7 linked regions of the Homo sapiens genome follow. The protein of the gene in region 2 interacts with the protein of the main gene of each other region in a biochemical or structural test. Each region holds a gene or a part of one and is shown on either strand. Other genes may lie near its edges. The genes, in order: LIMA1, XIAP, SERPINA12, XAF1, NOD2, PDCL3 and SDHA.

Region 1 (4,565 bases), on a different chromosome or scaffold from region 2:
CTACTCAGGAGGCTGAGGCATGAGAATTGCTTGAATCCAGGAGGCCGAGGTTGCAGTGAGCCGAGATCACGCCATTGCACTCCAGCCTGTGCAACAAGAGTGAACCTCCGTCTCAAAAAAAAAAAAAAAAAAAAAAATGCCAGGCATGCTGACATACACCTGTAGTCCTAGCTACTCAGGAGGCTGAGGTGGGAGGATCACTTGAGCCCAGGAAGTCAAACAGCTGCAGTGAGCTATGATTACACCACTGCATTTCAGCCTGGGTGACAGAGCGAGACCCCGTCTCTAAAAAAAAATTAAAATAGGATCATGCTGTCTTATAATTTGCTTTCTTCATTCAAAAGTATCCTATGAGCATCTTTTCATGTCAATAAGTATACTTTGATCACATGATAGGTATCTGAGAAAAACAGTGTCCAGTTACCAAGGCAAAGTGCCACTTTGATTGTCAGGGCTCCTGTGTGGTTACAGTAAGGGCAGGTGAAGTCAGAGACCTAGATGACTCATCCATTGTGTGGCACGAGACCTTACAGAGCCAAGAGTGCTGCTGGCAGTTAGGGTAGAACCAGCTTCTGGAGCTGTTCTGTAATTCCTTCTTTTCCAGCAAGAAAACTTTTTAAGCTTCTTATATCTCTGATGCATACATTCTTCCCCCAATGGATCATTTTGTAAGCTAAAATTTAAACACTAGAATCAAGCAGTTCTATAATTTCTTTTCAAGCCTTATTTCTACTTGATGAAGTGGCTTTCAAGAGTATATTCAGAAGAGTAATAGGGTGAGAGACTTAATTCCCAAAATAGCTGCTAATCCTGTTTAATTCCTAGGTTGTTTGTCCTTTCTTTCTTAGTTGAAAGACTGGTGAGTCACAGACTACAGGAGAGAAGGTATTGGAGTTTGCAGTTTGTTGGGAAGGTGGTGCTGTTCAATTTATTTAGGAGTACAGTCCTTTCAAAGTACGGGACATTTAATTTAATTTAATTTTTCTTTTTTTTTTTGAGACAGAGTCTCACTCTGTCACCCGGACTGGAGTGCAGTGGCGCGATTTGGGCTCACTGCAACCTCCGCCTCCCAGGTTCAAGCCATTTTTCTGCCTCAGCCTCCTGAGTAGCTGGGACTACAGGCGCGTGCCACCACGCCCAGCTATTTTTTGTATTTTTAGTAGAGACGTGGTTTCACGGTGTTGGCCGGGCTGGCCACGAACTCCTGACCTCAGGTGATCCACCCGCCTCGGCCTCCCAAAGTGCTGGGATTACAGGCATGAGCCACTGCGCCCAGCCGGGACATTTAATTTTCAACAAGCGTGTTTCCTCTATTATGGAACAACAGTGACAATTTCCAGGTTGTTTTCAGTCTGTCTTACATGTATAAATTAATTCCATTTTTGGCCCTAGTGAAAGTGAACTCTCTTAGATATGTAAATGTGTGTCCTTTGATCATCTGAGTGATAAGTAGTGGTATTTGCATTTGAAGCCTGCATATTTTACAACCAGAGGATCTGTAAAACAGTGAATTTCTTGATAACTGAGAATTTTTTTTTTTTTTTTGGTTGGGGGATGGCGTCTCACTTTGTCACCCAGGCTGGAGTGTAGTGGCGCAGTCTTGGCTCACTGCAACCTCCACTTCCCAGGTTCAAGCGATTCTCCTGCCTCAGCCTCCAGAGTAGCTGGGACTATGGGTGTGCACCACTGCACCCAGTTAATTTTTGTATTTTTTTTAGAGACAGGGTTTCTCCATGTTGGTCTGGCTGGTCTCAAACTCCTGACCTTGTGATCCGCCGGCCTCGGCCTCCCAAAGTGCTGGGATTACAGGCGTGAGCCACCGTGCCTGGCCCTGATAAGTGAGAATTTATACACAGATAAACTTGTAGAGAAGAGCAGGGAAAAAAAAAAGATTAAATTCTTATGAAAAATAAAATTTGACTGCTCATATGCATGTAAATTATGTCAGATATAACTAAATATTTATGCAAATACTTGGAAAGTCTGGGGACTTCTCCAGGGTTCTACAAATTGTTTCAATCCTTGCTGCCACTATCCGTAATTAATGGTATAGTTTCAGCTATCCTGCAACTATCCTGCATCTTTGTCTTATTTAAAAGAAGAAAAAAAAACCCAGCAGAATTTACCATGTTATTTTATGGCAGGTAATGATGAACTTTGCTGATGTGTAGTTACAGTGTTTCAAGCACTTGTATTTTGCTTTTTCTTTCTTGTTTTTTTCCCCATTAATCTTTGGGTAAAAATCTCTTGTTTCGCATGTAACTATCATTAGAGCTGGGTTTGCCTTTCTTCTCATTTTGTCCTTATAAGGCCATCCTGTTTTATCACTTCCTGCTTCAGCTCCTGAGTTTTTCTCTCTTCCCCTCTCCCTCTCCCTCTGCCGGGTGGATGCTTTCTCCATGTGGCAAGGCTGTAACTGTTCACAGCTGTCTGAAACAGCAGTGGACCAGGAGCAGCTTGGAGTTTTAACTTTCATTTTACAAAGAACAACATGTTTGAATGTTTCAGCAGGCAAGTTATAACTGGCATCTACTTCTTGTTCTTCTAGAACACCGAAAATCTCTCCCAGCACTTTAGAAAGGGGACCCTGACTGTGTTAAAGAAGAAGTGGGAGAACCCAGGGCTGGGAGCAGAGTCTCACACAGACTCTCTACGGAACAGCAGCACTGAGATTAGGCACAGAGCAGACCATCCTCCTGCTGAAGTGACAAGCCACGCTGCTTCTGGAGCCAAAGCTGACCAAGAAGAACAAATCCACCCCAGATCTAGACTCAGGTCACCTCCTGAAGCCCTCGTTCAGGGTCGATATCCCCACATCAAGGACGGTGAGGATCTTAAAGACCACTCAACAGAAAGTAAAAAAATGGAAAATTGTCTAGGAGAATCCAGGCATGAAGTAGAAAAATCAGAAATCAGTGAAAACACAGATGCTTCGGGCAAAATAGAGAAATATAATGTTCCGCTGAACAGGCTTAAGATGATGTTTGAGAAAGGTGAACCAACTCAAACTAAGGTAAGAATTGGGCGGGTTTGAAACTTGAGAAAGCCAATTCAAGCACTAAACAAAGCTGTTTTTCCAATCTAGCTATTTTGAGTAGAGGCGAATATGTGGTCAGTATGTCTTTTGATTCCAGTTAGATAAGTTAATAGTCTCAAATGCATTATTTACATAGATGCTAAGATTTGTGAGTCTCTGACACAATTTCATGTTAAATCAGGTTCACACTGGGATTCAAATTGGTATCTAGAAATGAAGAGAGTTTAATACCGATTGGATTATGTGTTTTTGTACACTTGCCCTTTTAAATTGTCTTCCTGTGTTCTTTATCATTTGTAGCTTTGGGGGTGGAATTACTGCTGAATAGCTCTCTGCTTGGACACAGCTGCAGACTGAGTGTTAAGGCCGGAGTTTAACATTAAGACTGAGGCTTACTTGTCTCTGCTAGCTGAATCCCTTCTCTTCTTCTCAACTTCCTCATCTGTGCCTTCCAACAAATGTTTTCTATCAGCTAAAATCCTCTCTCAGGCAAAATCAATGAAGATAGCCAGACTAGCTATAGCTTTCGGGAGTTTTGACTTGCAAATGCACAGGGTTGCGTTTTCCTACAACTGCTAATGAAATTTGATCCTTCATGTGGATTGCAGACCTCGTCCCCAGAGGGAATTACTTAACTAGAAAATGAGTTACATATGCTGGTGATTTATAACACAATCCAGAGGCCACAGAGCTGGTAAATTTTTCCAGTTTTCTCATACTTTCCTATATATCTGGCTTTGTACATGGGGATGGTTCGTTACAACAGTCGTTATAATGAAATAAACAGACCTGATGGGGAGCAAAACCATCTGTTACTCTAGATTCCACCTAGATGGGAAAGCTGGATTTTTTTTAAGCTAAATATTTGGCCCAAGTCCCTATGTTTGGAAAGTAATATAATAATATTAAGCATTCTTTCTGAGATAAAAAATAACTCATCCTGTAGTCTTCAGTTATATTAGATGTGATATTGTCAATCCCTTCCCATGACTTGCAGTGCCAGTCACTTTTCTACTTAGAATTAGAAAAGTTCTTGAATGTTTGCGGGTCATGTTTGAAGTTGTGCGAGTTTTTGACGATGTGTAAAGCTACAACACTTCTCTGTGCATGAGCTTTAGCTCTACTTTAACAGTGAAACCAGTTGGCAAGAGATGTAACCACAAAGCAGTTTTATAACGTTTCTTAACTCTCTTCCCTCTCAAGTTTTTAGACCTTTAGTCCTGCCAACTCCTTCTTTCCCCTTTATGGTTTTAATTTAAAAATTTGTTTTATTTAAATGGGAAGAAGAATTTTAAGTGGAAGGAAAAAATGTCAGAAATCCTAAATAGAGAGGAAGGGGTTTTGTTGTGACTCAAAGCACCATTGTAAGTCTCCTCCTCCCAGACCCTGCTAGGAACAGGACAGCTGATGTCATGCCAGTACACACAATGTAGATTCAGTGCAAAAGGCTGCTGCATGTTGAAACTGGCCAAAGGTAGGAAATGACTGGGACTGTAGCAGACAAAAATGCTGATTATGTGTAAGGATA
Region 2 (4,565 bases):
CTATAGAATGTTGAAGGGGGGGGGGGGATTAAAACAACCTGTAGACAATATGATCGTCATTATTCTATTTCATAAATTTTCTATAATAAACACATATCTCTGGCCAGGCACGGTGGTTCATGCCTGGAATCCCAGCACATTGGGAGGCCGAGGCGGGCAGATCACATGAGGTCAGGAGCAAGACTCCGTCTCAGAAAAATAAATAAATACATAAAATAAAATAAGCCAGGTGTGGTAGCACACCTGTAGTCCCAGCTACTTGGGAGGCTGAGGCAGAAGAATCGCTTGAACCTGGGAGGCGGAGGTTCAGTGAGCCAAGATCTCACCACTGCACTCCAGCCTGGGTGACAGAGCTAGACTCTGTCTGAAAAATATATATATTATATATGTAATATATTTTACATATTATATTGTGTTATATATTATATATATTTTACATATATTGTATTATATATTATATATAATATATTATACATGTAATATATTATATACTATATTATATATATCATACATTATTATATACATATTATATATTTTGATATTATATATGATATATCATATATTATATATTAATCATATATAATATATTGTATATAATATAATTTATATCATATATATTATATATCATGTATAATATATATTATATAATATATATAGAAACACATATTTCTTTTATAACTTAAAATACTCAAAGGCCGGCACAGTGGCTCATGCCTGTAATCCTGGCACTTTGGGAGGCCAAGGCGGGCAGATCACATGAGGTCAGGAGTTCAAGACCAGCCTGGGCAACATGGTGAAATCCTGTCTCTACTTAAAATACAAAAAAGGCTGGGTGTGGTGGCTCACACCTGTAATCCCAGCACTTTGGGAGGCTGAGGTGGGTGGATCACGAGGTCAGGAGTTCGAGGCCAACCTGGTTAACATGGTGAAACCCCGTCTCTACTAAAAATACAAAAATTAGCCAGTTGTGGTGGCGTGCGCCTGTAATCCCAGCTACTCGGGAGGCTGAGGCAGGAGAATTGCCTGAACCCAGGAGGCGGAGTCTGCAGTGAACAGAGATCGCAGCCATTGCACTCCAGCTCTGGGCGACAGAGCAAGACTCTGTCTCCGAGGGGAAAAAAAGAGATACCAAAAAAAAAAAAATTAGCCAGGTGTGGTAGCACACGCCTGTAATCCCAGCTACTTGGGAGGCTGAGTCACCAGAATTACTTGAACCCAGGAGGTGGAGGTTGCAGTGAGCTGGGATCATGCACTGAACTCCAGCCTGGGTGACACAGCAAGACAATGTCTCAAAAACAAATAAATAAAATAAAATATTCAAAATACCCTTTTATTTTTTTTGAGTCGGAGTCTCGCTCTGTAGCTCAGGCTGGAGTGCAGTGGCGCAATCTCGGCTCACTGCAAGGTCCGCCTCCCGGGTTCACACCATTCTCCTGCCTCAGCCTCCCAAGTAGCTGGGACTACAGGCGCCTGCCACCACGCCCAGCTAATTTTTTGTATTTTTTTTTTTTTTTAGCAGAGAGGGGTGCCAGGATGGTCTAGATCTCCTGACCTCGTGATCCGCCCGCCTCAGTCTCCCAAAGTGCTGGGATTACAGGCGTGAGCCACCACGCCCGGCCTTAAAATACCCTTTTTATGTTTTGAATTCAACACCTAAAATAACATATCAAAAATGTGAACATGTAAAGAAAGATGGGGTCATTGACATGCACAATCCCACAGCTAATTGGAAACAAAGTCAATAACCTGTACTGTGGTACCCAACGTAGGGCTCTTTCCAAACACTGTAGCACATGACCTCTAAGATACAGAAACAGTATTTGTTAAATTCTAAAGTATTTTTTATCTTATCACTACTGTTTGTCTCTTCATATCTACTCACACAATGTCCTTTAATAGTGCTAACAGGTTACATTTTATAAAACTATTACCAGATTATCTCACAGAGATAAAGCTTGAGAATTGACAGCTCATGATAATCTCCCAGCCTCAAAAGAACAATGGAAAAACAAACAAACACACAAAAGCAAAATAAAAACAGACGAACATAAAAAAGCAAAAAAAAAAAAAAAAGAAGAAAGGCGGCCTGGTGTGATGGCTCGCGCCTGTAATCCCAGCACTTTAGGAGGCCAACGCAGGCAGATCACGAGGTCAGGAGAATGCGACCATCCTGGCTAACATGGTGAAACCCTGTCTTTACTAAAACACACACACACACACACACGGTGAAACCCTGTCTTTACTAAAACACACACACACACACACACACACACACACACACACACACACACACACACGAGAATGCGACCATCCTGGCTAACATGGTGAAACCCTGTCTTTACTAAAACACACACACACACGGTGACACCCTGTCTTTACTAAAACACACACACACACACACACACACACACACACACACACACACACACTCTAAGCCGGGTGTGGTGGCGGGTGCCTGTAGTCCCAGCTACTTGAGAGGCTGAGGCAGGAGAATGGCGTGAAGCCGGGAGGCAGTGCCTGCAGTGAGCCAAGATCGCGCTACTGCACTCCAGCCTGGGCAACAGAGCCAGACTCCGTCGTCTCAAAAAAAAAAAAAAAAAAAAAAAAAACAGAAGAAAGGCATTTGTTTTGCCATATTTATCCTTGGAATCCTACCACATACTACAATGAATGCCTGGAACACATTAAGTGCTCAATGAATGTTTATTTCATAAACTGTAGGTTTTGCTCTCTGCTAATACTACCTACCAGACTTAAATATTAGACCAAACAAAAACAGTGAAATATCATTATTTTATCGCTAAACATTTACAATATAAATACAGGATTTACTAAAGAAATTAATGTTTACAATGAAATAAAAGGAGAACATTTATTTACTAAATTAGTAAATTTATTTAGTAAAATTTATGTTACTAAAATATTTTAAGCACTATACAAATTAGCTGGTCCATTAATTATAATAATTTTGAGAAACTGCTCACTTCCTGAAAATGAAAAAAAAAAGGAAGACAAAATAAAATAAAAACCAAAGAAAAAAATAATAATTCTTAACTATTGAAATGGTCCTGGCTAACCTTTAGATATTATTACTTTGTCAGCCTAGTTGGAATCATCCAATGCACTAGAAAGCAATAAAATTACAGGTATAGTACAAGGGCCACTAGACTAGAACCTAGACTCTAGTCCAAGCTTTGCTAATAATCAGATATATTACGGTGGGCAATATTTTTTTTGAGTCTTAATCTATTTCTAAAAACGAGACAGCTGGGCCAGGTGCAGTGACTCACTTTTTCACCTGAGGTCCCAGCACTTTTTCACCTGAGGTCGGGAGTTTGAGACCAGCCTGACCAACATGGAGAAACCCCGTCTCCACTGAAAATACAAAATTAGCCGGGCGTGGTGGCGCATGCCTGTAATCCCAGCTACTCGGGAGGCTGAGGCAGGAAACTGCTTGAACCTGGGAGGCAGAGGTTGAGGTGAGCCGAGATCGCACCATTGCACTCCAGCCTGGGCAACAAGAGTGAAACTCCATCTCAAAACAAAAACAAAACTAGACAGCTGAACTCCTAATCACTATAAACTGTTTTAGTCTTAACTTTTTATTTGTTTTTGAGGTGGAGTCTCACTCTGTGGCCCAGGCTGGAGTTGAATGTTGCGTTCTCAGCTCACGGCAACCTCCGCCTCATGGGCTCAAGTGGTTCTCCTGCCTCAGCCTCCCAAGTAGCTGGGACTACAGGGGTGTACCGCCACACCCAGCTAATTTTTGTATTTTTAGTAGAGATGGGGTTTCACCATGTTAGCCAGGCTGGTCTTGAACTCCTGACCTCAGGTGATCCGCCCACCTCAGCCTCCCAAAGTGCTGGGATTACAGGTGAAAGCCACCGCACTTGGCCCTAGTCTTAACTTTTTTAAAAAATATGTTCTTATCTACAAAGAGTCTACAATTCAGATTTTTGTTTCTTTGTTTTGTTTGAGACAGGGTCTCACTCTTTCGCCCAGGCTGGAGTACAGTGGCCCAATCATGGCTCACTGCAGCCTCCACCTCCCAAGGCTCAGGTGATCCTCCTGCCTCAGCTCCCCAAAGTAGCTAGGACTACAGGCACAAGCCAGCACGCCCGGCTAATTTTTGTATTTTTATTAGAGAGAGGGCTGCGCCATGTTGCCCAGGCTGCAGATATTTTCCTTGTGTCAATTTTTTTTTTTTTCGGGACAAAGGTGCACTGTTGTCACCCAGGCTGGAGTACAGTGGTGCAATCTCGGCTCACTGCAGCCTCTGCCTCCTGGGTTCAAGCAGTTCTCCTGCTTCAGCCTCCCATGTAGCTGGTACTACAGGTGCACGCCACCACACCCGGCTAGTTTTTTTAGTAGAGGTGGGGTTTCACCATGTTGGCCAGTCTGGACTCCAACTCCTGACCTCAGGTGATCTGCCCGCCTTGGCGTCCCAAAGTGCTGGGATTACAGACATGAGCCACAGCGTCAGGTGTCAAATTTTTCTTGTGGTTTATTAAAAAAAAGGGACCTAATTAGCCAGGTGTGGTGGTGGGCACCTGTAATCCCAGCTA
Region 3 (4,239 bases), on a different chromosome or scaffold from region 2:
CTTATACCTGTGCTCACAGCTTAGCTCCCACTTATGGGCAAGAACATGCAATATTTGGTTTTCCATTCCCGAGTTACTTTAGTTAGAATAATGGCCTCCACCTCCATCCAAATTGCTGTAAAGGACATTATTTCATTCCTTTTTATGGCTGAGTGGTATTCCATGGTGTGTATATACCACATTTTCTTTATGGATTTATTGTTTGATGGGCACTTAGGTTGGTTCCATATCTTTGAAATTACGCAACATGTGTGTGCATGTGTCTTTTTCATATAATGATTTCTTTTCCTCTGGGTAGATACCCAGTAGTGGGATTGCTGGATGAAATGGTAGCTCTCCTTTTAGTTCCTTAAGGAATCTCCATACTGTTTTCCATAGGGGTTGTAGTAATTTACATTCCCACCAGCAGTGTAAAAGTGTTCCCTTTCACCACATTCATGCCAACATCTATTTTTTTTATTTTTATTTTTTACTTTTTAATTATGGCCATCTTGTAAGAGTAAGGTGGTATCTCATTGTGGTTTTCATTTACATTTCCCTGATGGTTAGTAATGTTGAGCAAATGCTCTTTTTTTATATCCTCTGTTGTTCTGCTCTTCTACCAGCATCTAGATCTGGCTTGAATGACATTTAGCACGGACTTGGGTCTATATTATTTTAAGTGAAATTGATTGACAGCATGACTTCCAATAGTTTGGCTCTCTCAGGCAACCACAGATCCAATGCAGTCTCCTATTGCCCATTGTACAGGTGAGTACACTGAGAACCAGAGGAAGGGATGGCTTCTCCAGCCACCAGGTGCATTATGAGTCACCTATGTCTGGTACCCAGACCACAGGCCCAGGCCCTGAGACGTCCCAGAGCTCGGGAGTGGGGTGGGGTTGGATGGATGGGCTGCCTGCTCCCAGGCTGCACCTGGGAGGTGAGAGAGGGCCATGTGAACATCTGTGCCAGGCGGCTGGTATTCTATAGCAGTGCCAGGGTGCCCACACCCATTCCTGTCCTGTCCCAGGGAAGGAATCTGGGGTGGACGATTCTGCTCAAAGATGATCACAGGGATCAGGGCTGTGGAGCTGGGAGGGGATGGCGTGTGTCACTCTGGTTTCTGGTGCACTCACTTTTATGAGGTTTACTGGGTGCCAAACACTCAGGTCCTAGCAAGCCAGGCCCTCATCAGTGAATCTACAGAGCACCTTGGGTGTACCTAGCACAGTGCCCCTTGCTATTTGGGATGGGAGAGAAAAAGTAGGCCTGATCTTTCCCAAGGGGTGAGGAAGGGAACTCCCAGACGCATTGCTCTCTGAGTGAGACACTTGGCAGGGCCAGTTGGCCAGGCTGATCCTGGGAAAGGGGTGGAGGTGGCAGAGGCAGGCTTAGTAGGTCGTTGGGCAGAAGTCCACCCAGTTTGTAGATAAGGCTTGTGGGGCTGGGAGCCTAGAGGAACATACCTGGAACCTGAAGGCTGCAGGACCAGGACCGAAAAAGGACTAGGAGGCTGGGATCAGCAACAACTGGGGAAGGCCAAGGAAGACTGACCTGAGGGGAAAGGAGAAACTGGGGAGGTGAGGTTAGTCCAAGGGGCAGTGTGTGTGTGTGTGTGTGTGTGTGTGTGTGTGTGTGTGTGTGTGTTGTCTGTTTCTCTGTCTTAGAGAAGACAACCAAGGGCCAAGGTGATCACTCAAATAGACAGACATTCTGCGTCCTTCTCATGCCTAGCCCTAGGGCTGGATCACCAGTCTGGCCAAGAGTTCCATGGGTCTGTGCTGGCTGCCAAGATGCTGTGGCCATGCTTTCATTTATGGTCTACCAGAAAGCTATCCATGGAAAAAGGGATTCAGAACCAGAAGACCTGATTTTTGAGTCCTGAATCTGCTAACTGTGCAGCTATAGGAAACTCAGATTTCTCATGTGTAAAAATGGGTCTAGCAGCACCCAAACTTGCAAAGTTGGTATGAAAAATACATAATGTCTATGAATAACCGTATCTACTAATATGTGCATGGAAGTACCCTGTTCTGCAGAGACAAAGACAAAGAAGAAAATAAGATGAGGAAAATCAAAGCTGGCCCCCACCCACAATGTTTCAATGCATATTTACCCAAATTTTTTACTTTTTGCTGATTGAGAAACACATGTGGTTACTTATTGATATATATAAGAACTCTTAATTGTTAAGAACATTAGCTCTCTATCTTGTACACATGTTCCAATTTGTGATTCCAAATTTTACATATTCTGTAGAGTTTTAACACGTTGCAAAAAGATGGTATATCCATATATGCCATCTTTTCCTACATGGTTTCTGGCTTGTGTATCACACTTAGGAAGTTCTTTTTCACTCTAACATTATGAAAAGGTTTTATTCCAACACTTGTAATTTTATTTTTGAAATGATTTGTTTGTTTCCTAATAGCATTTATGGAATTGTTCACCTTTTCTCGAATGTTCTGAAATGCCATCTTGAATTTTTTACTATTTACAGAATGCTTCCCATTAAAAAAAAATTTTCTAAATTTTCTATTTCTCTCCTTTTATTTCTTACTTGTTTAGATTTTTGTGTGGAAAGATTTTCAACATTTTGTACTAGAAGCTTTTTAGGGTAACCTAGGATCTTACCGGAGATTGCTTAAAAATATTTTCTTTCAAAATCAATTATTATTAATTTTAAATCATTTATTGATTAAGCTCCCCAATTGGAGTTGAATTCAATGACTGAAAATACATTGCATTTACTCAGTCTTTGCCTTATTGCTTGGAGGTACAGTATAATTTGTTCTAGTGGGATTTGGGCTTTGCAGTGTTTCACACTCTTGGTCACTGGCTCCCATAGCTGTCTGTCACAAGCATCAACTGGGGATCCTGTGGAAACCAAAGAAGAGTGGGGACACCCAGGGAAATGCAAAGTATGATCTGGGATGGTGGCCAGGAATCTCTTTCTCTCTCTCCCTTCTCTACTATAAATGGACATCTGGGTTGTTTCCACTTTAGGTCTATCACATAAAGCTGCTATGGACATTGCAGTACATGTCTTGGTAAACCCACAAGCACTCATTTCCTGTTGGGCATATACCCTGAGGTACAATGAATGGGTCAAAGGGTAAGCATATGTTTACCTTTTATAGATCCTGCCAAGCAATTTTCCAATCAACACGTTGGTGTCGGTTTGCACACCCACCCGCAATATAAGAGAGTTCCACTTGCTCCACGTCCTCGTGTGGCTGGTCCTTTTAATCTGAGCTATTCTAGTGGGTGTGTAGTGAGTTCTTCTTGTAGTTTTGTTTTGCATGTTTCTGATGATTAATGATGTCGAGCACCTTTTCAGCTGCTTATTGGCCATTTGGATATCTTCTTTTGTGAAGTATTTGTTCATGTCTTTGCTTAGTTTTTAAGTTGTTGTCTTTTTTCAGTCGATTTGTAGAAGTGCTTAAAAACAGGCATGAGCCTTTTATCAGACACAGACATTACACGTACCACTCCCAGCTTGTGACTTGCCTTTGTACTGTCCTAGGTAATTTTAGAGGAACAAGGCTCTTAATGTTAATGAAGTTCCATTTATCATTTTGTAAAAATGGTTAATACTTTCTGCCTATCTCATGGTCACAAAGATTGTCTACTATTAATATATTTTCTTCTAGAAGCTTTATCATTTTGATTCTTGTGGGTTTTGAGGTTAAAAAATATTAAAGACCAATAGTTTCATATAGTCCAATCTAATACCTTTCACATTTAGGTCTGTGACTTCTCAAATTAATTTTTGTATGTTGAGTAAAATAGTCACTATTTATATTTTTCCTGTATGGACATCCACTGGTGTTTTGTTGTTGTTGTTGTTGTTTTCATCATTCATTGAAAGGATCATCCTTTCCTTTGAACTGTAGCGATGCCCTTGTCACATATCAGGTGACTTCCTGTGTGGCTCTGTTGGATTCTCTAGTCTGTTCCATTGGTCAGCTTGTCTGTCTCTGTTCCAATACCTTAATACTGTGGCTTTACAGCCATCTTGATACCTGGTGGCTGAATGCTTTAAAAGACCTGGGAATCATCAGGTGGGAATCACTTGCTTTGGAGTGGGATTCTCAACCTTGAGTACTCATTAAATCCCCTGGAGAGAAGTTCTTAAAGGCACCCTCACCCAGGATTTATCCTGCATCAACTAACTCAAAATCTCTAGAGGAATGTTCTGAAAATAGGTATTTCTAAAGCTCCTGGATGATTGTAATGCACTCCCAGGATGGAAAC
Region 4 (4,565 bases), on a different chromosome or scaffold from region 2:
ATTTTTTAAAAAGCCATATGTAGTCAGACACTTCCAAATTTATATCTCAGTCTGGGTTTTTCTCCCCAAACTCTAGATTTGTATATTACTATTTACTGCATCTTCACTTGAATGCTTGATAGACATCTTAAATGTAACACATCTGAAATGGAATCCTCTCTGCCACAGCTTGGCCCATCTCAGTTGATGGCAACTCTATCTTTCCAGTTGTTCAGGCCAAAATCTCAGGTTCACTCTCGACTTCTCTTTCCCTCCGCATTGCTACCCTGGTATGAACCATCATCTTCTCTAGCCCAGATGCTGCAGCAGTCTCCTAAACGGTCTTCCTACTTCTCACCTTGCCCCCTACAGTCTATTCTCATCACAGAGGTCAACGTGATCCCTTAAAAATACAAGTCAGATTGTTTGGCTCCTCTGTTCAGATCTCTGTACTGATTCTTGCCCCATTTTATGCAAACTCAAAACTACAGTGGCTTTAGAGATCTATGTCATCTTTGCCTCCCTTCTTATCTCATCACCTCTTTGATCTCATGTACTACTCCTGTTCAGCTCACTGGCCTCCTGATTGTTTCTTGAGCATACCATGCCTTAGGGCCTTTTCACTGGCTACTGCCTCTGGCTGGAAGCTACCTCCTCACCTTCCCCACCCTACTCCAGGAGCTAACTCTCTCACTTCTCTCAAGTCTTTGCCCAGATGGCACCTTCTCAAGGAGATGTACCACAACAACCTATTTAAAATTGCAACTCCCTCTCCATCACATATTTACCAACCCCTTACCTTCTTCTATTATTTTTTCCATAGCATTTGCCAACTTCTAACATATTATCTAATTTACTTACTTATTATGGCCCTTGTTAATTGTCTCCCACGACCTCAGAAAAACTATAAGCCCCACTGGTCCCCTTCATGCTAACTACTCCCCAGACACAAATACTCTACTTTTGCTTTTAGCTGTTTCTTCTGGTAATCACCTTCATATGTCTAAAGCACCTTCTTATATTTTTTCCAGTTTTAGATATTACTTATTGACTCATAAGGATTTAGGAATATAGATTTCACTTTTTTATACCACCCATCCCACACACACACCTCCAAAGTTCTTCATTTCATCCTTCCAATGTATTGATTTCACTCATTCTGGTTAAATAAATATTCAGTATTACATTAGTATAACCATGTAAACATTATAAATGGTTTTCCACATGAATTGTGATTATGTGTTCTTTCTCCTACAACTTTTTGTTTTACCTGGACTTAATAATTGCTTCGGTTTTTCATTTGCTTCACTTTCTAGGTACCTATCACTAAATCATCCCTAAAATTCTCTACCAGATCTGAAAATTCCCCTGAGTACAACTACACACATCAGATAGTCTGTCCATTTCATTTTGGGAGCATGTTATGCCCCAGGCTTGATGATTAGCTGTTGGTCTGGAATTTCTTCCACTCTCTCCACGGTTGGAGTTCTGATTCCCAAATCTCAGGTCTCATCTTTCTCTTTCTTAGGTTACTCCTTGTTTGATAGAACATATCCCCAAATAGTTTCTTGAGAAAGAAAGCATGAGAGGCAAATTTTTTAGGCCTTATATGTCTGAAAATGAAAGCTTGGGTGGCTATAGAATCTATTGACCATCTTAATCTGTTTATTAAAAATCTTATTACAATTCTGATTTGGCCACTACACACTGTATACATGTATTAGAAAATCATTCTGTATTCTATAAGTATGTATCATTATTACTTGTCCACTAAAAATAAAAGAAATAAAATTGATTACAAAAACTTTCAAATAAATATGACAGTAGAAAGTTAATACAATAAACATTCATGTATTTACTCCCCAGATACAACAGTTGTTGTTCTAAACAAGGTGAATAAAAATAAATCTACTCTTAGATACATTACAGGTAAAAGGCAAAGGTTGATTTCTTTGAAATCAGCCGAAGAAGATTACAAGCAAAGGAATGGCAGTTAGGCTGAAAGCAAATATATCGACAGCAATAATAGAAGTGGGTATGCAGTGGAATAATCTTCAAAGTGCTAAGAGAAAATAGCTGTTAACACGTGGAAATCAAAAGTTTTCCAGGCTTGAACTATACTTTGTTTGTTTTCTTTTTTCTAAAGTATGTTAAAGCAAATCCAAGATATCCTGTTATTTCACCATCATTCTTTAATATCTCAAAAATACAGTCATTTTCTTAATCACAATGCCTTTATCACTCTCAATGATGTTAACAATAATTTTCCCCCATCGTTTTGGGGCCTTGCATTTACCACTCTTGTTCATTACTACTGCTGCTGCTGCTGCTGCTGCTGCTGCTTGCTTCTCCCTTGTATTCTATTGGATTGAGCAAGATTTCTTTATTCTCTTTCTTCTTTCCTACTGATTCGTCAATTTTACATTTATTTCTATCATTTCAATAGTTACCCTTAACATTTTAATATAAATACTTGACTTAATAAAGTCTAAAGTTAGTCATTATCTCTACTTTCCTTACAAATAGTATATAGATTTGAGAACATGTTAACACTGTAACTATCTTACATGAAAATGCTGCCAGAATTTTGTTTCATTTTGCTTTCATACTACCCCTCTTTACTGATTATTGTTGTTATTTATGTAACTCATGCCTGTTTAGATATACTCACATGTTTTTGTTTTTGCTTTTTTTCTTTCTTTCTTTCTTTTTTTTTTTGAGACAAAAGTCTCACTCTGTTGCCTGGGCTTGAGTGCAGTGGCACGATCTTGGCTCACTGCAGCCTTCGCCTCCTGGGTTCAAGCAGTTCTCCTGCCTCAGCCTCTCAAGTAGCTGGTACTACAGGTGTGTGCCACCACGTCTGGCTAATTTTTGTATTTTTAGTAGAGATGGGCTTTTCCATGTTGGCCAAGCTGGTCTTGAACTCCTGACCTCACATAATCTGCCCACCTCGGCCTCCCAAAGTGCTAGGATTACAGGCATGAGCTACTGTGCCCGGCTGGATATACTCACAAGTTTACCCTTCTCTTTACTCACATTCTTCCTTGGATCCTAAGCTTTCCTTCTGGGTATGATTTCTCTCTTCCTGAAATACATCTCAGTAGCTTCTTCACCAAGAACCTTGAGTAGTAAATCTTTAGTTGCCTGAAAATAAGCTTTTTGTTTTTTGCATCCATGAATGATAGTTTAGCTGGATATCAAAATCTAGATTAACAGCTATTTTCTCTTATCATTTTGAAGATTATTCCACTGCCATCCCACTTCTGTTATTGCTGTTGATGTATTTTCTTCCAGCCTAATTGCCATTCCTTTGTACGTAATCTTTATATTTGGTTGATTTCAAGATCCTCTTTGCCTTTTACCTGTAACGTGTTTAAGAGTAGTTTTATTTTTATTCATTCTGTTCAGAACAATGTACTCAAATGTGTTTGCTTTTCTCCTGCTCAGGATTTCTCTTTCCTTAATATAAAGATTTATGTCACTAATCAGGCCTGAAAATTCTCATCTATTATCTCTTTGAATTCCCAACATTCCCCAACTCTCCCACATTCTCTCAACTCTCCTTCTGGAACATAACACATGTATATTAAGCATTCTCATTCTAGCTTCATGACTCTCTTTTTTTTCATGACTCTCCTTTTTTTTCATTTCTCTCTTTTAATCGCCTTATGTCTCTTAACCTTTCATATTTTCTCTATTTCTATCTCTTATATTCTGGGTAATTTCCTGAAATTATCTCCAAGTTCATTCATTCTTTCTTGGCCAAATCTAATTTTCTGTTTTTAGCCCATCCATTTAGGTTCAATACCTGCATTTTTCATGTCTAGAAGTTCAATTTATCTTTCTTTCAAATTTGCCTATTTTTGTTCTCACTACAAAAAAAAGATAGGTATGTGAAGTGATTGATATGTTAATTAACTTGATTTAATCATCCCACAATGTATATATATATTAAAATATCACATTGTACCCCATAAATATATAAAGTTATTATTTGTTAATTACAAATTAGAAAATTTCAAATTTACCTGTTCTGTTTTTCATGAGATGTTATTCTTTTCCCAGATTTAATCATTTTTAATTAATTTATTTTACAGTCTCTATCCTATAGTTGCATTACCTGAACTTCTTGGAGGCTAATCTGACTACTTTTGTGTCTGTGACTCTTACTCAAGGTGGATTGCTTCCTTGTGTGTTTGTAATTTTGGATTGTGAGTTTCTATCTGGTGGGACTCTACCTATGAGGATCCTCTATGACCTATTTTGAGGCTGTTGTCCCTCCAGAGGAATTTTGTGATTGCTTCTGCCAGACATCTCAATGTTTATGTTAATTCTTCTGCTCAGGGATTCCCAGACCATGAGGCCAAAGTAAATCCTAATCCCACACACAGGAATGGCATGGACCTGTGATTTTGAGTTTTCAGGGGCATAAGTTTTCATCTCCACACTCAAATACCGACCCAAGAAAGAAAAGCTTCCTTGCCACTTTCCTTTTCTCATTAGCTGATACTTTTCCTCTTACCCACCATAATTTATCCTTTAAAGTTTCCAGCTTTATGCAGGATCAATAGAGTCTTACTTCCAAA
Region 5 (4,565 bases), on a different chromosome or scaffold from region 2:
GCTTTGCCTTCCAATAATGTCCACTCCAGGTCCTCCCCCTTTCCCACAATTTCAGGAATGTCTTACAAGTTGACCCTAAGGCAATGCCAATTGTAATTGCCAGTATTTATTGAACTTCTATTAGATTGGTGCAAAAGTAATTGCAGTTTTTGCATTGTTGAAATTTGCCATTTGATATTGGAATACATTCTTAAATAAATGTGGTTATGCTATACATCATTTTAATGCACAATTCTCACTTTATGATTTTTTGCTAATGACTTAATACTTTCTGTTTATTTTATATTTATTTTAGACTATGAAAATGATGTTAGACAAAAAGCAAATTCAAGCAATTTTCTTATTTGAATTCAAAATGGGTTGTAAAGCAGCGGAGACAACTCACAACATCAGCAATGCATTTGGCCCAGGAACTGCTAACTAACGTATAGTGCAGTGGTGGTTCAAGAAGTTTTGCGAAGGAGATAAGAGCCTTGAAGATGAGGAGTGTACTGGCAGGCCATCAGAAGCTGACAATGACCAATTGAGAGCAATCATCAAAGCTGATTTTCTTACAACTACTTGAGAACTCAACATCGACCATTCCATGGTCATTCAGCATTTGAAGCAAATTGGAAAGGTGAAAAACCTCGATAAGTGTGTGCCTCATGAGCTGAGTGAAAACCAAGAAAATCGTCATTTTGAAGTGTCATCTTCTCTTATTCTACACAACAACAGCGAACCATTTCTTGATCTGATTGTGACGTGCGATGAAAAGTGGATTTTATACAACTGGCAATGACTAGCTCAGTGGTTGGACCGAGAAGAAGCTCCAAAGCACTTCCCAAAGGCAAATTCGCACCAAAAAAAAAAGGTCATGGTCACTGGTGGTCTGCTGCTAGTCTGATCCCCTACAGCTTTCTGAATCCCTGCGAAACCATTACATATGAGAAGTATGCTCGGCAAGTCAATGAGATGCACTGAAAACTGCAACACCTGCAGCCGGCATTCGTCAACAGAAAGGGTCCAATTCTCCACGACAACACCCGACTGCATGTCACACAACCAAAGCTTCAAAAGTTGAATGAATTGGACTATGAAGTTTTGCCTCATCCGCCATATTTACCTGACCTCTAGCCAACTGACTACCATTTCTTCAAGAATCTTGACAACTTTCTGCAGGAAAAATGCTTCCACAACCAGGAGGATGCAGAAAATGCTTTCCAAGAGTTTGTTGAATCCCGAAGCATGAATTTTTATGCTACAGGAATAAACAAACTTATTTCTTATTGGCAAAAATGTGTTGATTTTAATGGTTCCTATTTTGATTAATAAAGATGTATTTTAGCCTAGTTATAATAATTTAAAGTTCATGGTCTGAAACCACAATTACTTTTGCTCCAACCTACAACTCACTTTTGTTAGCTACATTCTCTCAGTGAATGCTCATGGCCTATAATGAAGGTCCAGCCATTATCTCCATTTACACTTGAGGCAACTGAGGCACTCATCCAAGAAGAACTGGCTGGTAATGGTGGAGCAGGGGTAAGACCCAGGCTGTCTGGTTCCAGAGCCTGGACTCTTTTTTTTAAATTATTATTTTTCTCATCCTTTTTTTTTTTTTTTTTGAGATGGAAGTTTCTCTCTTGTCCAGTCTAGGGTGCAATGGTGTGATCTTGGCTCATGGCAACCTCCACCTCCCAGGTTCAAGTGATTCTCCTGCCTCAGCTTCCTGAGTAGATGGGATTACAGGTGTATGCCACCACGCCCGGCTAATTTTGTATTTTTAGTAGAGATGGGGTTTCTCCATGTTGGTCAGGCTGGTATGGAACTCCCCACTTCAGGTGATCCACCCGCCTCAGCCTCCCAAAGTGCTGGGATTACAGGTGTGAGCCACTGCACCCAGCAAGCCTGGGCTCTCAACCAACTCTTGGCAGAAACTAAGCCTGGAAAAGAAAGATGTAGGCATTTCTCTTTTTTATAAAAGATATATCAGAAGTTCAATTTTTGTGGGGGATGATATAGTTTAGGATGCTGAAAAATAAGGCTGATGACAGGGTGGCATGGGACCAACCCCAGCCTCATTGCCTGGCATCCATGGGAGTCAAGTGGAGTAAGGCTGTGACAAGGAGGGAAGACAAACCTGCCATATCCACACCTGGTTGATAATGGGCTTGGTATTCCCAAAGGCCGACCCTCAGTGCAAAGCTGGCATCTGGCTCAGACACATCCGGGCTTCACCCCAACTTCCCAGCCCATTTCCACCCAAATAATTAGTGGAAGTGTTTTCTCCAAATATTTGGAAACTTCCTAGCTTGTGAAAGCAACACAAATGAGTGTCGCCAGAGTGGGTAGCAGCCTGGCAGCAAAGCTGGCACTCACAGAGGCAGCTGTCTGTCTGTCTGTCTCTAAAGGCAAGCGTTTTCCTAGGACCACATTTGCCTAGGCAGATGCCACTTTCCTCCAGCAAAAGGAGCCATCTGATGGGGTTCCTGAGGTCTACTTGAAATAAGAATTTTGGCATCAGCCTCAGAGAGCACCCTGACAAACCCATGATGGTCACTAGGTGGGTTCATGTTCACCTGAGCTGTCCATCTCTTTGTGGCACAAGTCCCAAGCCACTGAGTCAGCCACTGGAGGAGGCCACAGTACTCCCCATCACATCACCTCCCCAGCCACTGCTTGCAGAGAAGACCTTCCACTCTCTGCCTGAGGCCATTCTCCTGACCCCAGAAGCATGTTCAGCTGGGTGAGGGTGAGCTGGAAGTGCTGGAGAATCAGTGCCCCATGAGCGCACATCAACATAGGAAGGACAGAGGGTTGGTGGATAAATGCCATGGCTTTCTTGCCCATTGGTTGGGTAGGTGACCATGTGTGTTCTGCACTGGCTCCAGGAGTGCCCCAGAGTACTGAGCTCCAATTTCCCTCATTGATAACTGGCTTGATAACTCCCCTTTATTGGTTACCTTCACTTCCCCATCTCACTTCACCACTCTCCTATCAGCATTTACTGGGACCACCTCCCAGATAAACAACTTGCACTGGAATCCTTGTCCACCTAGACCAAGGCAAGCTGTTCTACCAGGCCACCTCACATGAGTTAGCCCAGCGGAGAGCGGCCCAGATCTTATTCAGAAATGCCCCTTCCAAAGGCCAGCAATTATTGTCCTGTTTCCTGCTTATGGGTTCCTTACTTCAGGATTTTCAAACTTGAATTTTTCTTCAGTCCTTCTGCGAGAGAACATACACCTTCATCCTGGAGATGGTTCTCCTCCAGGCTGGTGAGAAGAAGAGAGAAAATCCAGTTGATACAACATTGATTATGGAAGATGATGAACTCACATGCCCCCCATATAGGAAATCCAACATCTGAAAACCCAAACTCATGGATAAAGAAAGAACAGATAAAGTACGTTGTGGGGATTCTCAATTCCAGGGACATATTTGCAAGAGAATTCACTCCAAGGGCTCTCAATGTAATAAGTTCCCTGATCCCCCAGCTTCCTGATCTCCATCTTTCCTTTCTTCCTTATTAATGGAAGTCTCATTTCATTTGGACAGCCATGCACTTGGTGAAAAAACTGTATTTCCCACTCTCCATTGCAGCCAGGGCTGGTCAAACAACATACAAGTGGGTTGGTCAAGTGACATACACATGGTTGATACATAAGGGGAAGTCGACAGGTGGGGCTTCCAGGAATGCTTTTTAAAGGAGAGAACCCAGATGGCTTTCCTGGGTATATAGATCGAATCCGGGAATACAGAAGTAGTGCTGCACCTGGAGCAGCCATCCTGTGATCATGAGACAACCAACCATGTGAATGAAGTCACAGGCTAAGAATGATGGAACAGGAAGAGAATGAGACAGAGCTGAGACCCCTCCTGGCCTCTTGTAGCCACTGTACAAACCCTACACTGCCTACATCCAGCTGCCTATACAGGAAAAAATAAACCCTTTCCTTGTTTAAACCTCTATAGATGGAGGTATTCTGTCACCTGCAGCTTAACATATAGTTAAACTAAATTTGGCCTGAGACTGCCTCTGTACTTTGAGTTCCTATGTAGCAAACTGCAACCTAACAACATATCCTTATAACAAACAGCTAAGTCTTAGCCAATCACAGCAGCCAGGCTTCAGTCAGTCACAGTCTACCAGCTGATCAGTCTATATCCATATAAAGAAAATGCCTCATCACACCATGCCCATATAAGGCAAATGCCCAGCTGCAACCAATCAAGCTGTTTTGTACATCACTTCCTTTTCCTGTCTATAGATACTGCTTGCCTACCTTGCTGGGTGGAGCACTCCCAGTTCTGAATGCTGCCCAATTCATAAATTGCTGTATGTTCAAACCAGTTCTGCTAAATTTAATTTGCCTAAAGTTTTTCTTTTAACAGTAATCATAACTGATGCTCTCATAACAAGGTTCTCCTCTACTAAGAAATTCCAAGTGGCAAAATCCAGTCAGGATAGAATCAATCATACTTGAGTAGAGCTAGTAAGCCCTGCAACAGCCAAGGTCCATCCATAAAATCTGTTTATGGCAATGCCCATATGTTGCAGTGCCTTTCTGCTTCCCGGGAAA
Region 6 (3,500 bases), on a different chromosome or scaffold from region 2:
GGTTTATTTATTGGTCTTATGGCAAAAATCTAAGATCAGTTTGCTAAAATTCACAATATTATTTAATTGCAGTCGCTCCTAGATGTTTCAGCTGAAAATTAATTTTTTGAAGGACACACATTTCATTTTATTTTTTGAGACAGAGTTTGGCTCTGTCACACAGGCTGGAGTGCAGTGGCACAGTCTCAGCTCACTGCAACCTCCACTTCCAGGGCTCCTGAGTAGCTGGAACTATAGCCGTTCACCACCACACCCAGCTAGTTTTTGTATTATTTATAGAGACGGGGTTTCACAGGCTGGTCTCAAACTTCTGAGCTCAAGCGATCTGCCTGCCTCAGCCTCCCAAAGTGTTGGGACTACAGGTATGAGTCACCATGCTCAGCCCACACATTTTATTGCCACGCCAAAAAAAAAACCAAAACAAAACAAACAACAACAAAAAAACAAACAGCCCCTCTGGGTGGCGCTTACCTGTACATTTCAATAGCACGTTCATCCTCCTCATTAAACTCGTCTTCATGATCCTCCAGCTCTTCCAAAGTCATATCTTCATATGTTTTCACTGAATTTGGTTACATTGGCAAAAAGCAAAAATTTAAAAAGATGAACGAACATGTATTTTTCTTTTTTCCCCTCTCTTTTCTCCTAAAGATATGCACACAACACCAGATCCTTAGCCTACCTAAACAAAAATTACTTAAGGCACCACACTACATTAGAAGCTGAGAGGCCAGGCATGGTGGCTCACACCTGTAATCCCAATTTATTGACTGACAACATTTTACCCAAGCCCTCAGATCCTCCTCCCCTCTCTTCTCCTATTCCGCCTCACCCTGCCCCGCTTATTTTCCTTTTTTTGGAGACAGAGTTTCACTCTTGTCATCCAGGCTGGAGTGCAATGGTGCGATCTTGACTCACTGAGAACCTCCGCCTCCCAGATTCAAGCAATTCTCCTGCCTCAGCCTCCTGAGTAGCTGGGATTACAGGCGTGTGCCACCACACCCAGCTAATTTTTGTATCATTAATAGAGACAGGGTTTCACCATGTTGGCCAAGCTGGTCTTGAACCTTCTGACCTCAAGTGATCTGCCCATCTCAAAGTGCTGGGATTACAGGAGTGAGCCAGCCGCCCTACTGTTGAACCCTTTGCTGATTAAAATTCCCCAGGCTCAAACCTTTGACTACTTTTCTTCTTTATCCACACCCACTCCCTCGGTGATTGCATCTAATCTCATGGCTTTCAGTGCTATCAATATGCTGACAACTCCCAAAGTATAGGCCTCCAGCCCAGACTTCTCTAATGTAGAGAAAAACATACCCAAGGGCCCTCTTAATGTGGCTATTTGTCTAATAGGGATCTCCAAGTTAATGCATCCCTTGGCTGGGTGCAGTGGCTCACGCCTATAATCCCAGCTCTTTGGGAGGCTGAGGTGGGCGGATCACTAGAGGTCAGGAGTTTGAGACCAGCCTGGCCAACATGGTGAAACCTCATCGCTACAAAAAATTACCTAGGCGTGGTGGCACATGTCTGTAATCCCAGCTACTCGGGAGGCTGACGCAGGAGAATCGCTTGAACCTGGGAGGCGGAGGTTGCAGTGAGCCAAGATTGCGCCACTGCAGTCCAGCCTGGGTAAGAGAGCGAGACTCCATCTCAAAAAAAAAACAAAAAAGAGAAAATGTCACTCTTCTGTTTAAACATCCAAAAGCTTCCTGCCTCATTAGGTGTAAAGGCCAAGGTCCTTACTAGAAGCTTCTGGGTCTGCTGAGGCTGCTCTGAACTCTCTCCCCCAGCGCCTCCAGCTCCTCAGGGATTCCCAGCCATGCCAGGGCCCATATTTCACTCGCTCACGTCACCCCCTTCAGGAATACCCAGATGTCTTCTTCACCTCCTTCAGGTCTCAACAACTCCCTCAGGTCTATTCAAATGTGTTCTTCAGCTCCTTCAGGTCTTTACCCAAATGCCAGCTTCACCTCCTTCAGGTCCATGCAAATGTCATCTCAGTGAGGCCCTCTCTGAGCCTGCTTCTCCTCCAACCCTTTCTAGTCCCTTTTACTGCCTTATTTTCTTTATTGTTTATTGTCTGTCTCCCCCACTTGAATGTTGGTTCTCTGAGGGCAGAGAATTGTCTCTGGCTTATGCATAGCTAAATCCCCAACCCCAGAAAAGCACCTGACAATGATAATCATGCAGTAAGCACTCGCTGGATACTTTCTAATAAATCCTTCTCTAAATTAGCTCTAATGTGTCAACAGAGGACAAAAGTACTAGTCCCTGGGACCAGTGCTTCTCAAACTATGACACGCATCAGAATCCTTTAAGGCACTTGTTTAAAATGCAGATTCCTGGGCCTCATTCCAGAGACTGCTTCAGTAAACACTAGGTGGGTGGGGTTACCAGCACTCCAAGGGACTCCAATTCAGACAGTACAACTGCCTTTGAGAAAACCCCCCTCAGACTCCCACACATTGCAAACATCTTATGCCTCCCCAAATGAAGCAATTTTTAGTTAATATCCTCAATGAAACCACAGAAAATAAAGTATATGCTCAGGAAAATACAAGTACTAAAAACCTTGAACAAATTTCCATGACATTATCAAAGGGAATCACAGACCAGAAAGCAGAAAGAAGTATTTTCTTCAGTGCTCATGTGACATGGACAAGGACTTGTGGGACATATCTGAAGTCCCCTAAGTCTATGGCTCAGGAAGGTGAAGGTGAGAGACGCCCTGTGTTTTGTCTGAGGTCCCACAGACACAGAGTGTCCATGCTGGCACTCCAACCTGTCTCCTGGCAGGGCAGTCAGAGGCTTAGGGAGCCATCTCCTAACCCAGACAGGTGCAGAGGAAAGCGAGTGAACTCACCCACTGACTGCTGGAGGATGCGCTGCTCCTCTTCTGCCTCCTCTTCCAATTCTTTCAGACTTTCCTTGGGGGGTAAGATACCCTTTTTGCGTAAGATGTCATTCCATTCAGTGTCTGCGTTGGGGTCCTAGAAGAGCGGGACCAAGGTTACCATGAGTGCTAAGTCTAGTATGTAGGGTGCCACGTTGGGCAAGGGGCCAAATGGGAAAAGTGACAGGAAGGGAGGAATGCACACCAGTCTGTGAACTATTTCTGAGAAAGTGTCAAAAGATCCATAGCCCCCGTTTTGTTTTTCCTGTCTACCCCTCCCTGAATGGAGGAGCTATTCTTGGGGTAAAAATTAGGATAGGGAGTGCAGATCAGTATCAATACGGATACCAAGGCTCTGACTTGGCATGTGTTCAATATTTTTAATAATGACTGAGAGTGCCGGGCACAGTGGCTCACGCCTGTAATCCCAGCACTTTGGGAGGCTGAGGCAGGCGGATCACGAGGTCAGGAGATAGAGACCATCCTGACTAACACGGTGAAACCCCGTCTCTACTGAAAATACAAAAAATTAGCCGAGCGTGGTGGCGGGCACCTGTAGTCCCAGCTACTTGGGAGGCTGAGGCAGGAGAATGGCATAAACCCGGGA
Region 7 (4,565 bases), on a different chromosome or scaffold from region 2:
GCAAGCCTCCTGCCTCAGCCTCCAGAGTAGCTGGGACTACAGGAATATGCCACCATACCTGGCTAATTTTTTGTATTTTCAGTAGAAATGGGTTTCACCATGTTGGCCAGTCTAGAACTCCTGACCTCAGGTGAGCCACCTGCCTTGGCTTCCCAAAGTGCTGGGATCACGTGTGAGCCACTGCGCACAGCCAAGATTTGCAACTCTTGTGTTTCTACGATGTCTTGAAAAAAGTTTTTAAGTTTTTTTTATAACGTTATATATATTTTCTTCAACAGGTAATACATGCAGGAGGTAGGATGTATGAAATGCAGGAGTCAAACAGGCCCCACCCCGCCCACCACCTCTCCACAGGACCAGGCTATGGGTCTCTTGAGGGTCTGCTCAAATGCTTCTAGGCTCGCTGGTGTTTCTCTTCCTTTTGATAATAATGCTTTAAAAATTGATCATTCAGTAAAATTGACTTTTTTCTTTAGGTGGACAGTTCTACAATTTACTTTTTCTTTTTTTTGAGACAGTGTCTCCTCCCTCTCTTGCCCAGGCTGGAGTACAGTGGTGTGATCTTGGCTCACTGCAACCTCTGCCTTCCAGGCTCCAGCAATCCTCCAACCTCAGCCTCCCAAGTAGCTGGGACTACATAGGTGTGAGCCACCATGCCCAGCTAATTTTTGTATTTTTGGTAGAGACGGGGTTTCACCACGTTGCCCAAGCTGGTCTCGAACTCCTGAGCTCAAGCAATCTGCCTGCCTCGGCCTCCCAAAGCGGTGGGATTATAGGCGTGAGCCACTGCACCCAGCCTCAGTTCTACCAATTTTAACACATGTATAGGCGCATGTAACCACTTCGGGAGGCTGAGACAGGAGGAACACTTGAGGCCAGGAGTTCAAGCCCATCCTGGGCAACACAGGGAGACCCTGTCCCTACAAAACATTTTTAAAAATTAGCCAGGTGTGGTGGTGTGCACCTGATCGTACCACTGCACTACAGCCTGGGCGACAGAGGGAGACTATCTCTTAAAAAAAAAAAATACATATATATGTGTATATATATGTATTTTTTTTTGCAGGGGGTTTTGGGGGAGAATAGTGATGCTACAAGCATTTTTTCTTTCCTTTTCATTTTTGAAAATTAAAGCATAAAGATACAGTAAAATAAACTCATCATTTTTAGTGTAGGGTTTTTCAAATTTTGACACACACAGAGTTGTGTCTGTAAGTCTCAGCACAATCAGGAAGCAGCCTCTGGCAACCACCAATCCCTTGTCTTCCCTAGATGTGCCTTTTCCAGAATGTCGTATCAACAGAACCACAGGCATGCAGCCTTTTGAGTCTGACTCCACAGCATTCTGCGTGAGATGCTGCATGCGTGGGCGGTTTCTCAGATGTAAAGTATAGGGTATTCTTACAAAATGTTCTTTTTTGCATTTTCAAAGAAAGAGCAGCTCAAAATTTCTACATTGCTCTGAGAGAAGTGGTATCAGTCCTCACTGCGACAAAGTGCAGGGCTATGGAGTGAGACAAGCACTACCTGCGGCGTCAGGAACGATGGACCTGAACTCCGCCTTCGCCGATGATCACCAATGGCTGGGGATGAGACGCCAGCTCTGCGTGTGCTGGCCTCCCGAGCGGTGGTCAGATCCAGAGACAGAGTGTCTGAAGTAAGCTACCCTTTTAATACTATCTGCACCTTTCTAACTACAGATACAAAAGGGGGCACGTTTATAAGTTACAGCCGTGCTAGTTTTTATTTCACTTGAATCCATACAAAAAGCACCTGTTGTATAAAAACAGCAGAAATGATGCTAACAGTTAACACCAGAGAAAGGTAACGGGAAGAACATGGGCCTGGGGTCCCACCATCCTTGCCACGCAAACATCCACCAGTGCCTCATCCACCTCACACTGTTCTGAGCACACGAGGCTGGATAACCACCGTGAGGATGTCTGGAGGTGGGAGAGATGCTAACTGCCCCGTTCTTAGTGCACGTAAGACTCACACTCCCACACATGGTATTTCCTTTACTGCACATTATTTGATGCTATCATGAAAAGAAAACCAGCAAGTGAAATCCAATCTGTCCGTAAAGGGTGGGAATCCTGTTCACTGTAAGTCATCCCTTCTCCTCTAATAGAGGCTAGCTGTACTTTGTTTCTAGAATGGCCTAAATTACTTTTCTAAGTACCAAGAAGTTACATATTCATTCATGCCAACTACTTAAAATATTTCATTGCAAATAAGTGATTTTTATCAGGCAAGTAATATGTAATGATTCCCCTAAAAATAACAACTTTCTAATAGTGCTTTTTCTAAACAGAACATAATGACTGCAAAATAATTAAAAAAAAATGTAACCCCAAAAATGTCACCTTAACTGTTAAGATCCCCAACCAGCCTCTATCTAGTCTCAACATTACCACCATATAATTTCTGGATTTCTCAGTTTAATCACTTCTGGGGGAAAAACCCAGACTACCTCTATATGATCACTAAGCAAATTTCCAGTAAGAAATCAAGGCTTTGTAACCTGGCTGGGTGCAGTGGCTCATGCCTGTAATCCCGATACTTTGGGAAGCTGAGGCAGGACTGTTTGAGTCTAGGAGTTCAAGACCAGCCTGGGCAATATTGTGAGACCCTGTCTCTACAAAATAAATTTTTTTAAAAATTAGCCAGGTGTGGTGGTGCACATCTGTAGTCCCAGCTACTTGGGACTCTGAAGGTTGAGGTGTTGAAGACTGCTTGAGCCCGGGAGGTTGAGGCTGCTATGACTGTGCCACTGCACTCCAGCCTGGGCTGACCCTTTCTCAAAAAAAAGAAAAAAGACTTTCTAACGTCCTGCGCCTTCTCAAATAGTCTGGCTCCTGAAGAAAACACTTACCAGGCCTGCATGACTCTTCGATGCTCAGGGCACATGCCCGACCAAAGACAACCAGGTCCAAGAGCGAGTTTGCCCCGAGGCGGTTGGCACCATGTACCGAGGCACAGGCGGCCTCCCCACAGGCGTACAGGCCGGGCACAATCTGATCCTGGCCATTCACGTGCCTCAGGACCTGTGGAAAGGAAGATTTCAGGTGAAATGTCAAGGTGCCCATGCCTCCACCAGCCCACCTTCCCCAACAGGGTGTCTGTGCTGCAGGTCAGAGAGAGGGAAGTAGGCCAGGCGTGGTGGCTCACGCCTGTAATCTCAGCACTTTGGGAGGCTGAGGTGGGTGATCACCTGAGGTCAGGGGTTCAAGACCTGTCTGGCTAACACGGTGAAACCCCATCTCTACTAAAAATACAAAAATTAGCGGGGCATAATGGCGGGTGCCTGTAATCCCAGCTACTAGGGAGGCTGAGGCGGAAAAATCACTTGAACCTGGGAGGCAGAGGTTGCAGTGAGCTGAGATCGCACCACTGCTCTCCAGCCGAAGCAACAGAGTGAGACTGCATCTCCAAGAAAAAAAAAGAGAGGGAAGTAAAGACCGTATCTAAGAGGGAAGTAAGGACCATAGCTACTCTTCTTCAGAGGGAAGCTTCCGAAGGTATCCCCCAGTTTCCCCTCTGCCCCTGAGCACCTGCTGTTACAAGCAGGTCAGAGGACCTCCAATGTCAGCATCTGCGACTGTCCCCCGTGTCCCATGTTCCCGGGGCCCTCACCACCTGTGCTCCGGCTCAGACCCAGGAGCACGGCAGGTGGAGGAACATCAGCAGGGGAGACTGATGTTCCAGACTGTTCTACCCCGTTCACCTCTTCGTCTACGCAGGGAGAGCAACAGCTTCCACCCACCTCGCCCAACAAGGAGCCTAAGTGACTGACAAGCTCTGTGTGAACCACAAACCACTCAAAGGAATGAATTATAAAGATCCCTTGATGTGTAAGATCATTAGAAATAACACAAGATCATATAGGAAAGTAATTACAAAATGGAAAAAGCTGCAAATGATGTATCTCTGACAATTTACTAAGGAGGAATAAATTATTAAGCCCCCTCCATCCTCCGGTAATAGAAATTTAAAGTGCAATCTAGAAAACAATACAGTACTTTCTTGAAGGAAACATCTATCTTTTCCTGTAAGATCTAAAGAGACAACTGCGAGGTGGGCCCCGTCGTCCCAGCCTTCTTTCCAGCTGTGGGGGAGGAGCCAGCACCATCACCTGCCCCTTGTAGTTGGTGGGAATGCCGCCCATGTTATAATGCACGGTGGGGAGGACAGGGATCGGCTCCTTCGTGACGTCCACGCCAGCGAAGATCATGGCTGTCTCTGAAATGCCAGGCAGGCGCGTGGCCAGCTGCTCTGGAGGTAGGTGGTGCAGCTGCAGGTAGACGTGATCTTTCTCAGGGCCACAGCCTCTGGTAAGACAGAACACCATCACATACGGCAGAGAACGGCAACGGCAGGAGACCTGAGAATACGTCATCTTGGAAGTGTGTGAGTTTCAACATGTTTTGATACTGAGGAAAATTTCCCCTCATGTATGGTCACCCTCTCATCAAATCTTTTCTAAGCAGCTACTGTGTGCCAGGGACAATCCCAGGTGCTGGGACACAGCTGAGAACCAGAACAAAAACTCTGCCCTCACTAAA

Evidence for each region.
Region 1: the proteins of XIAP (region 2) and LIMA1 form a complex in vitro, tested with the Homo sapiens proteins (one large-scale study listed by BioGRID).
Region 3: the proteins of XIAP (region 2) and SERPINA12 form a complex in vitro, tested with the Homo sapiens proteins (one large-scale study listed by BioGRID).
Region 4: of the proteins of XIAP (region 2) and XAF1, one has a biochemical effect on the other in vitro, tested with the Homo sapiens proteins (one study listed by BioGRID).
Region 5: the proteins of XIAP (region 2) and NOD2 form a complex in vitro, tested with the Homo sapiens proteins (one study listed by BioGRID).
Region 6: the proteins of XIAP (region 2) and PDCL3 are reported together in a solved structure, tested with the Homo sapiens proteins (one study listed by BioGRID).
Region 7: the proteins of XIAP (region 2) and SDHA form a complex in vitro, tested with the Homo sapiens proteins (one large-scale study listed by BioGRID).

The regions. Positions count from the first base shown.
Region 1 is NC_000012.12:50,220,469-50,225,033, reverse strand, and holds part of LIMA1 (LIM domain and actin-binding protein 1), read left to right. Parts: intron 1-2,375; exon of another isoform or gene 2,376-2,399; coding exon of another isoform or gene 2,400-2,511; exon of another isoform or gene 2,512-2,548; coding exon 2,549-3,013; intron 3,014-4,565. UniProt on the Homo sapiens protein: Actin-binding protein involved in actin cytoskeleton regulation and dynamics. Increases the number and size of actin stress fibers and inhibits membrane ruffling. Inhibits actin filament depolymerization.
Region 2 is NC_000023.11:123,862,500-123,867,064, reverse strand, and holds part of XIAP (E3 ubiquitin-protein ligase XIAP), read right to left. Parts: intron 1-4,565.
Region 3 is NC_000014.9:94,506,670-94,510,908, reverse strand, and holds the start of SERPINA12 (serpin A12 precursor), read left to right. Parts: upstream 1-1,439; 5' UTR 1,440-1,567; intron 1,568-4,239. UniProt on the Homo sapiens protein: Adipokine that modulates insulin action by specifically inhibiting its target protease KLK7 in white adipose tissues.
Region 4 is NC_000017.11:6,765,444-6,770,008, forward strand, and holds part of XAF1 (XIAP-associated factor 1), read left to right. Parts: intron 1-1,908; exon of another isoform or gene 1,909-2,010; intron 2,011-4,565. UniProt on the Homo sapiens protein: Seems to function as a negative regulator of members of the IAP (inhibitor of apoptosis protein) family. Inhibits anti-caspase activity of BIRC4. Induces cleavage and inactivation of BIRC4 independent of caspase activation.
Region 5 is NC_000016.10:50,724,181-50,728,745, reverse strand, and holds part of NOD2 (nucleotide-binding oligomerization domain-containing protein 2), read right to left. Parts: intron 3,258-4,565; coding exon 3,174-3,257; intron 1,332-3,173; exon of another isoform or gene 296-1,331; intron 1-295. UniProt on the Homo sapiens protein: Pattern recognition receptor (PRR) that detects bacterial peptidoglycan fragments and other danger signals and plays an important role in gastrointestinal immunity.
Region 6 is NC_000002.12:100,565,993-100,569,492, reverse strand, and holds part of PDCL3 (phosducin-like protein 3), read right to left. Parts: intron 2,991-3,500; coding exon 2,864-2,990; intron 563-2,863; coding exon 472-562; intron 1-471. UniProt on the Homo sapiens protein: Acts as a chaperone for the angiogenic VEGF receptor KDR/VEGFR2, increasing its abundance by inhibiting its ubiquitination and degradation.
Region 7 is NC_000005.10:234,910-239,474, reverse strand, and holds part of SDHA (succinate dehydrogenase [ubiquinone] flavoprotein subunit, mitochondrial), read right to left. Parts: intron 4,332-4,565; coding exon 4,136-4,331; intron 3,048-4,135; coding exon 2,876-3,047; intron 1-2,875. UniProt on the Homo sapiens protein: Flavoprotein (FP) subunit of succinate dehydrogenase (SDH) that is involved in complex II of the mitochondrial electron transport chain and is responsible for transferring electrons from succinate to ubiquinone (coenzyme Q).